Linked DNA regions of Homo sapiens. The protein of the gene in region 1 purifies or fractionates together with the protein of each later gene. This does not show direct contact. Each region holds a gene or a part of one and is shown on either strand. Other genes may lie near its edges.

Region 1 (4,515 bases):
AAGGCAGTTAGTAAGTGATAACTCAGACATAAATCTTGGTTTATCTCTTTCACTTATAAATAGAAAAATAAAAAAGTATTTGCTAGCCAATAGCAGCACCATTAACTCAAGCTAGTCACCTAGCAAAAATATTCAGGCCACTATGACAGTTGTGTAGGTGTCTCAGAATTAATGTATTTGCTTTCAATGCTTCTCAGCTGTGCCGTCGTCTTTTTTTTTTTTTTTTTTTTTTGAGATGGGGTCTGGTTCTGTCGCCCAGGCTGGAGTGCAGTGACACAATCTCGGCTCACTGCAACCTCTGCCTCCAGGGTTCAGGCCATTCTCGTGCCTCAGCCTCCTAAGTAGCTGGGATTACAGGCACGCACCACCATGCCCCGCTAATTTTTATATTTTTAGTACAGACAAGGTTTTGCCATGTTGGCCAGGCTGGTCTCGAACTCCTGACCTCAAGTGATCCACCCACCTAGGCCTCCCAAAGTGCTGGGATTACAGGTGTAAGCCACTGCGCCCAGCCACAGTCATCATTTCTAAAACAGTGCCCAAGCAAGGGGAGGTGAAACCAAAAGGAAAGGCTCAAGGAATGTTTGTGGGCTTCAAAGGATAAGCCACTATGGCAGCAAACCTCACACAATGAAAATCACCAGTGCCTCTTATTCACTATTCACAATTTGTGCCTTGCTGCCTCTTTTTCCCATGAATCCCTTTTCCCTTTAACCAACTTCCTGTGTTATGAATCAGGCCTGTCAATGATATCCAAGGGCACTGCTTAGCACTGCTAGCAGAACTTCACTTATTCAACTTAATAAATTCTAATTATATATTCAGCATTGGGCCAGGTGATGAGAATCTTAATGCTGATGGCGCTACTGTCCACTGGTTCTGATAGACTGAGAATATTTACTGCTGAAGAAATGAAGTCCCAACCTGGCTGAGATTTTAAGGAAATGAACCTACTTAGACACAAATTCAAGTGACTTAGGCAGATGCTCATTATTAAATCTGTTTATCTTTCTCTCTCACTTAAAAAGGATCAAGATCTATGCCTAAGAGGAGTTACATACCATCCCATCCAAAAGCAAAAATAGCATAATGGCCTGGTAATGGCCTCTCATCTTCATTCTCACCTTAAACTTACCTTAGATGAACTGCCATAGAAAGCAGCTCAGTCCAAAACGCTCAAATGGTGCTCCAGGATTTACTTTTTTGTATTGTTTTGTTTTGTTTTTTGCGACGGAGTCTCGCTCTGTCGCCCAGGCTGGAATGCAGTGGCGTGAACTCGGCTCACTGCAAGCTCCGCCTCCCGGGTTCACGCCATTCTCCTGCCTCAGCCTCCCGAGTAGCTGGGACTACAGGCGCCCACCACCACGCCCGGCTAATTTTTTTTTGTATTTTTTAGTAGAGACGGGGTTTCACCATGTTAGCCAGGATGGTCTCGATCTCCTGACCTCATGATCCGCCCGCCTCGGCCTCCCAAAGTGCTGGGATTACAGGCGTAAGCCACCGCGCCCGGCCAGGATTTACTTTCTTAAATGCACTCTTTTCATTCCCATTCAAAGGACTCCAGTATAAGTGCCACATAAACTCGTTTTCTAACTTTTAAAACTCTTCCTCTAAATGCAGCCCAACTCAGTAAAAACGTACCTAAGATCTCACAGTCTAATGTTTCCAGCTTTTAAAGCCTTTACTCCTACCCTTCCCTCTGCCTGGAAAGTGTCTCCATTCCCTGCTGTGGACAAAATCCCTCAAGGTCTTTTATAATTTCCCCCAACCCCAAATCAACTTGGATTTTCTTGGAGTTCTCACAGCATTCAGTTTATGTCCTATTCTTACCCTTGTGTTACTGATATTCACGAAATTGCTCAGTCCTTTCAAGAGATTGCTTAAGGACAAAGACTTCTTACTCAACTCTGCAATATTGGCTACACATAGCTGACTTAATAAATAGTCCCTTGACTGGTATAAGCTGACGTTACAAAAACTGGTAATTCCGAAACCACTCATACTGGACTTATTAAATAATCCCTCAACTGGTACAGACTGACATTACAAAAACGGATTAATTCAGAGATCACTGAACACCCAAAACACTCAGATTCTTATAACTATGATTCAGTAAATATGTGTGGAATGCCTATCTTACCAGGTGACTATGTTAGGCGCTGCATGAGATATAAGATGAAAACAAGGTTCCCATTTTCCAGGGAAGAATACTGGAGTGGAAAACGCAGAGGATACCACAACAGGAGAGCTATTTCCGATTAGCGGCCGCCACTGCTGAGCTATGTGACCCTGAGCAAGTCACTTCTTAGGTCTCCGTTTCTCTGTCAAGGAGAGATAGAAAAAGAACCTATTTCACAGGTTCAAACCTACCTCAAGAAAAAATAGTTGTGGGGAATGCGTCACGAGACCTAGAAAACGGTACAAAACCCTCGGGGGGCCGCTGTTTCTGACCTAGCGAGTGGCCCGACCCGGACAAAATGCCTCTTCCTCGAGGAGGCGGCGACGAGCCCAGCAACAGCTCGAGCACGGCCGGCCGGGCCGCGGGAAGCCCGAGAACGCGGCGCGCGCAGCTGGGAGGCGACCCTTACCCGGCGAGGCTCCCGGGACCAAACGCCGCCCGACAGCCACGCAGAACAGACGCGGCAGTGCGACGCCTCCCCCACTGGGGACACGAGACAGCGACAGCCACGCGGTGAGCCGGTACAAGGCCCTCTAGGCTTCAGCGGGTCTGGATACTCGGTGGCATTAACCCTTCCCTACCGCCGGGGAAGACAGCAGTTTCTCTGGCGAGGAAGTAGGCCGGGCTCAGGCGCCTTAGCCAGAGGGCGGGCCTGCGCCACCCTCGGAAAGCGTCACTTCCACTTCCGGCCGGCGCTCTGGCTCTGTACCTGGACAGGGCTGCGGTAGGCCAGCGGTGGGCTGGCGGTTGCGCTCCTCAGATCGGCGGCCTTTCGGGCGGTGGCTTGCGTTTGAGCCTCAGAAAGCGAGGAGCGGCCTCCACGGAAGCCAAGCTGGCCGAGGTAACCGAGAAGCGGCTTCCCCTATGGCTTCGACCCTGGAGCCGCTGGAGCGGCGGCGGCCGCAGGGAGGCAGCCATTTTCCGTAGGCGGTGGCCGCGGCGCTTCCGGGCCGCGCGGCTGGAGCCTGAGGCGGGGCCACCGTCGGGCACGAGAAACCATTCTCTCCCCGCTTTTCGCAGCTGTATCCCAGAGGCGCGGCTGAAGCTCGCTGGGACACTGCCCGCTTGCCCAGTGCCCACGGGCACGCCTGTCGCAGACACAGGCTGTGGCGAATCCGAGTGCTGGCGGGCAGCAGTGCCTGCAGCTGCGCCCGCAGACTCTTTCCCGCCTCCGCCGGCATTTCCGTGTCCGGCCGATGTCATGCGGTCGGTTGAGCCTCAGGGCTAGCAGCTTCTACTGATGCAAAAACATAGGAAGTGTCTCTTTGCTTCTGGAACCGGGGTGGGCAGCAAGGAGCTGGCCACTTCTTTGAATACCGGTGGCATCCTGGGCAGAATTTCGGTGCCGTTTCTGCTGGCTCACTTCAGGAAAAGTGAGGCTCACGGCTCTCCTCAGCCCCCCTTAGAAGTCTAAATGACCTTTGGAGAAATACAAAGTCAGCAGAAAGTTTCACTTTCATCGTCACCAACTCCTGTTGGAGTTGATATTTCATAAACATCAGCGACAGAAAGAAAATACGACTTGATATTTTGTAAATAAAATATCCTTTTTTACAAGTTGATATTTTGTAAACAGAGGTCAGCTGTAATTTTCTCCAGATCAAGTAAGCACAGTTAAAAATTCATATAGGCCTGGCGCGGTGTTTGACGCCTGTAATCCCAGCACTTTGGGAGGCCAAGATGGGTGGATCACGAGGTCAGGAGATCGAGACCACCCTGGCCAAGATGGTGAAACCCTGTCTCTACTAAAAACACAAAAATTAGCCGGGCATGGTGGCACGCGCCTGTAATCCCAGCTAGTCGGGAGGCTGAGGCAGGAGAATGGCTTCAACCGGGGAGGTGGAAGTTGCAGTGAGCTGAGATCACGCCACTGCACTCCAGCCTGGGTGACAGGGCGAGACTCCATCTCAAAAAAAAAAACAAAATTCGTATAAATCATCTGCATGGCACCCTTTATGTGTGTTGCAAAGAATGATGAGCATCTTGTTGCTTACTTGGGAGACATTGTCTGAAAATAGGCTACTTTTTTACTTTCTGTAGTACCCCCTCCCCCCACTGTATCTGGGTTTCACTTACCCGCTGTCAACTGCCATCCAAAAAATATTAAATGGAAAACTCCAGAAATAAACAGTTCATAAGTTTTAAATAACTTTTTTTTTTTTTTTTGGAGATGGAATCTCGTTTTGCTGCCCTGGCTGGAGTGCCGTGGCACAGTCTGAGCTCACTGCAGCCTTCACCTCCCGGGTTCAAACAATTTTCCTGCCTCAGCCTCCTGGGTAGCTGGGACTACAGGCGCGCACTACCACACCTGGCTAATTTTTGTGTTTACAATAAAG
Region 2 (3,810 bases), on another chromosome or scaffold:
CTGCAGCCTTGGAGGGGAGAGGAAGGATTTGGAAGAAGTCTGAGCATGGATTAGATGAGAAGGGCTGTGAGGGAGTTTCTGAAATCGCTGGTCCTAGCAATTGAATGCAGAGCCCATGCCACCACAAAACAAAACAACACAAAAACAAAAACAAGGAGGAGCTGGTTTTTAGTCTGGGGAAGGAGGGAAGATGATCCCAACATTTTGGAAACGCTGAACTTGAGATGTTAGAGGGTGATCTGTTGGGAGATGCTGTCCAGCTGCAGGCTGTTTTGCCTGTCTGTTTTGGCACGCTTGCCCTGAGGCAGAGAAAAGAGGAGGAGATCTGGACCAGTTTAGCAGACAGGAATGTGCAGGGATTCAGAGCACGTTTTGGAGAGAGATGGAGCCAAGCTTAGATTCCTGGCCCTGCCATTCAACGTCTGTGAGGATTGGGCTGTTGATGTGACATCACTGAACCTGTTTCTCCAATTGTTAAGATGGAGACAGCCTCAGAGACTCGTAGGAGGATCAATTAAGTTTACTAATTGGGTACCAATGTTATTAATATCATTGTTTTCCTGAAGGCTATATTTCTTTATTTTTCAGACAGAGTCTAGCTCTGTCACCCAGGCTGGAGGGCTGTGGTGTGGTGTGATCTCGGTTCACTGCAACCTCCACCTCCAAGGTTCAGGTGATTTTCCTGCCTCAGCCTTCCAGGTAGCTGGGATTATAGGTTCCTGCCACCACACTCAACTAATTTTTGTATTTTTAGTAGAGACGGGGTTTCACTATGTTGGCCAGTCTGGTCTTGAACTCCTCACTTCGTCATCCACCCGCCTCAGCCTCCCAAAGTGCTGGGCTTACAAGTGTGAGCCACCGTGCCTGGTCTATTTTATTTTCATTTTTTTGTAAACTTTTATTTGCATGTTTTGTTCTTCATTTCTTAGCAGTAGCCTGTATGCTATCAGCAGGGAGAGAGTCCAGGCTAGCATGTTACATATTAGAACAATGTTGCACCCAAGAGTGGCTGCAGGAAATGTCCTCCCATCAGACTCATATTATGTCCAGAAGAGTTACTTTTATATATGGGGTCCTCTCAGCTGTTTGACAGAAGAAATAATAAAGAGCTTCAGATTTCGTTTTAGAATGACACGTCAGCTAATACACGTTTAGGCTTATCTTCCAATTTGCAGTTTTTGGCATTAAGCTTTTAGAAACTTTACCAGATTTATTTTATGTTTCTTGAATTCTCTTCTCCACATGACCAAGGAGTGAAATTGCAAGTTTGTTTGCATAAAAGAAGCGCAGACAGCCACGTTCCATCCTGTTTACCAGTTTAGGCCCCGGTGAATGCAAGCAGAGGCAGGTATTTGTGACCTTTGAAAGCAGCTCTCACTAGCACCTCTTCAATGTATTTCTGAACCTTTGGATGTTCCTGGCTGGGCAAATGGTTGATTACCATGGAATCAAGCAGTAACAAGCCAGTCTTACCTTTGACTTTAGTGATAAGGATTAAGTAATAATCTCCCTCCCTTTTGGTTGAGCTGCGTGTTCCGAGCCCGAGTCTGGTTCTTCTGTGTGCTGTGTGAAGTGTTGCTGCTGCAATCGTGTTACTCAGTCACAGTGACTTCGGGAGGAGATGGTCCTAAGTCAGCAGATCCAGGCAGCCCTGGAGGGCTCTAGTTCTGTCAGCCCCTGGCTCCAATCCTTGTGTCCTTCAGTGTTTTAGAGATGCTGTGGAAGGCAGCCTCCCCCAATCATCACAAATCTGCATGTTCAGTGTCACAAAGTCCATGGCTGTGAAATGGTTCATTCTGTTTTAGAAACCATTTGTAAACTTGGAAAACAATGCTAAAATTTAATTAAAATATCCAAGGATTTCAAAATACTGGCCACATTAATCTATGCTTCTAAGGTGTTCTCCATCATATGAATTAAAATGACTTAGAGCTCTTTAAATTTTTCAGTGGGATTTACAGTAAAAGTAAAGAAGAGATATTATAGGCAGTTTCTCCAGTTGAGTTCTGCTCCCCAAACTCCAGGAAGAGCTCCTTCGTATCTCTGGGGCTGGAAAGGGAAAGGACACAGAGACTTCAACCCTGCCTGGTGCTTTTCCACTTTACTTGGGCTGCAGGGCCAACTAATTTGAATAAAATTGAAGTGAAATGTCAAGAACATCTCAAATAAATAATATTCCCAGTGAGATTTTATCAAATGTAAACTTGGAGCACTTTTTTCTTCTTTTGCCAGTTCCTTATTGGCTGTCCTCCAAGAAGTTGCCTGCAAAACTGGTTTAGAGATACCTCCCCTTCCCCCAATCCCCAGATCAACCCACACTTACTTAGTGGATGCCTGCGGGGCTCTATTGTCATGTGGCTGCCTTGGTGGGGAGTACTATGAACCAGGTGCACCGCGCGCATTATCCATGATCCCCACAAACATGGCCAGAAACAGCCACTCAGGGGCTTTGCACAACTTGATGTCACATCATCAGTAAGAAGCAAAGGCAGAATTTGAACTGAGGTCTTTCTGGTGCTGAGTTCTTGCTTCTCCGCATGGTTGTGTTATGCCAAGGGAGCTAGAGGTGGAAACGGTAATATTTCTTGCACACTTGCCTATGCACCAGGCACTTTTCTGACCACTTTACCTGTATCAACTCAGTTATGCCCCCTCTCTGTAGACTATGAAGCAGACACACTACATTCCCATATTGCAGATGAACCAGAGGTCACAGATGCTAAGTGACTTTCCCCGGCTGCTGAGCATGGAGCAGAGCTGGGATTGGAACCCTGGTGGTGTAGAGTGCCAGCCTGGGGCCTTGACCATTACACTCTAGTTTCCTGAGGAACCGGGTGAAAGGCCATTGCATTTGTCTAACGCTAAGTTTGCACAGCAAACACACTTTTACCAAGAAGCTATGCTAATCTGGAGGGTTTTTTTCAGGAGTTGGGAGTGTTGGATGGTAGAGGTTATGCAGGCAGGCATTACCAATACCACTGGGTCTAATGGAGTTTATGATCTTAGGAATTCTTGGATCCTTTTATTACTCTCTAAATTTATTCATCCATTTACATTGAGAACTTACTATGTGCAGGCATTGTTCTAGGTGCTAAGGATACATGGTGAACAAAATATTCTTTTTTCCAGGATCAAGACTGATAGGTCTTTCTTCCTCCAGAGGCACATTCAGATGTGCCATGTTTATGTAAGAGTTTCGGTCCCCTTGGAGTATACACTCGGCATTTACCTGGTGCCCTGTACTTTTGCTTCAGACCTCACTAGAAAAACCTCTGGCTGCCTGTAAGGTTCTAATTTCGAATGTCCCAGGTAGAGGGCTGTGCCATCCTCAGGATGGCCCAACAGGTGAGGTGAGCTCAGAGGCCCTCCACTCTTGGCATTCTTGTACAAAGCAGGTTGGGCCCAGGCCTCTTAAGATCGAGGTTTTAGGTAGCATTTCCAGGGGTGGCAGCCCTGTCTGTGCCCTCCCTCCCAGTGGCTCTTAGAAGAGAGTGGGCCATTCCTAAGGCCATGAAGACAATGCCCCATAAAGGTCATGCTTCCATGCCTGAGGGCTCTCCCGGTCCTCTCTTGGTGGGGGTTGAGAGACTAGACCCTCCCCCCTACCTCCCCAGGAGTGGGGGTTATGTGATGTCACCAATGCTGGTGTCTCACTCTTGCACACATTTTCCAGGCTCCTGGCACCATGGAAGATCTCCTGGAGGCTGGTGCCTTCAGCTTCAGGCTCTGATCCTTCCTTGTTGCTTTAATTATCCGTCTTACCACCCAAATCAATTAACAGGCTTCCTAGTTAACAGGCTTCCATTTTCT

What was found.
Region 2: the proteins of TIGD7 (region 1) and FBP1 purify together in Homo sapiens (affinity purification with mass spectrometry; one large-scale study listed by BioGRID and IntAct). This does not show direct contact.

The regions. Positions count from the first base shown.
Region 1 is NC_000016.10:3,302,624-3,307,138, forward strand, and holds the start of TIGD7 (tigger transposable element-derived protein 7), read right to left. Parts: upstream 2,808-4,515; 5' UTR 2,589-2,807; intron 1-2,588.
Region 2 is NC_000009.12:94,629,448-94,633,257, reverse strand, and holds part of FBP1 (fructose-1,6-bisphosphatase 1), read left to right. Parts: intron 1-3,810. UniProt on the Homo sapiens protein: Catalyzes the hydrolysis of fructose 1,6-bisphosphate to fructose 6-phosphate in the presence of divalent cations, acting as a rate-limiting enzyme in gluconeogenesis. Plays a role in regulating glucose sensing and insulin secretion of pancreatic beta-cells.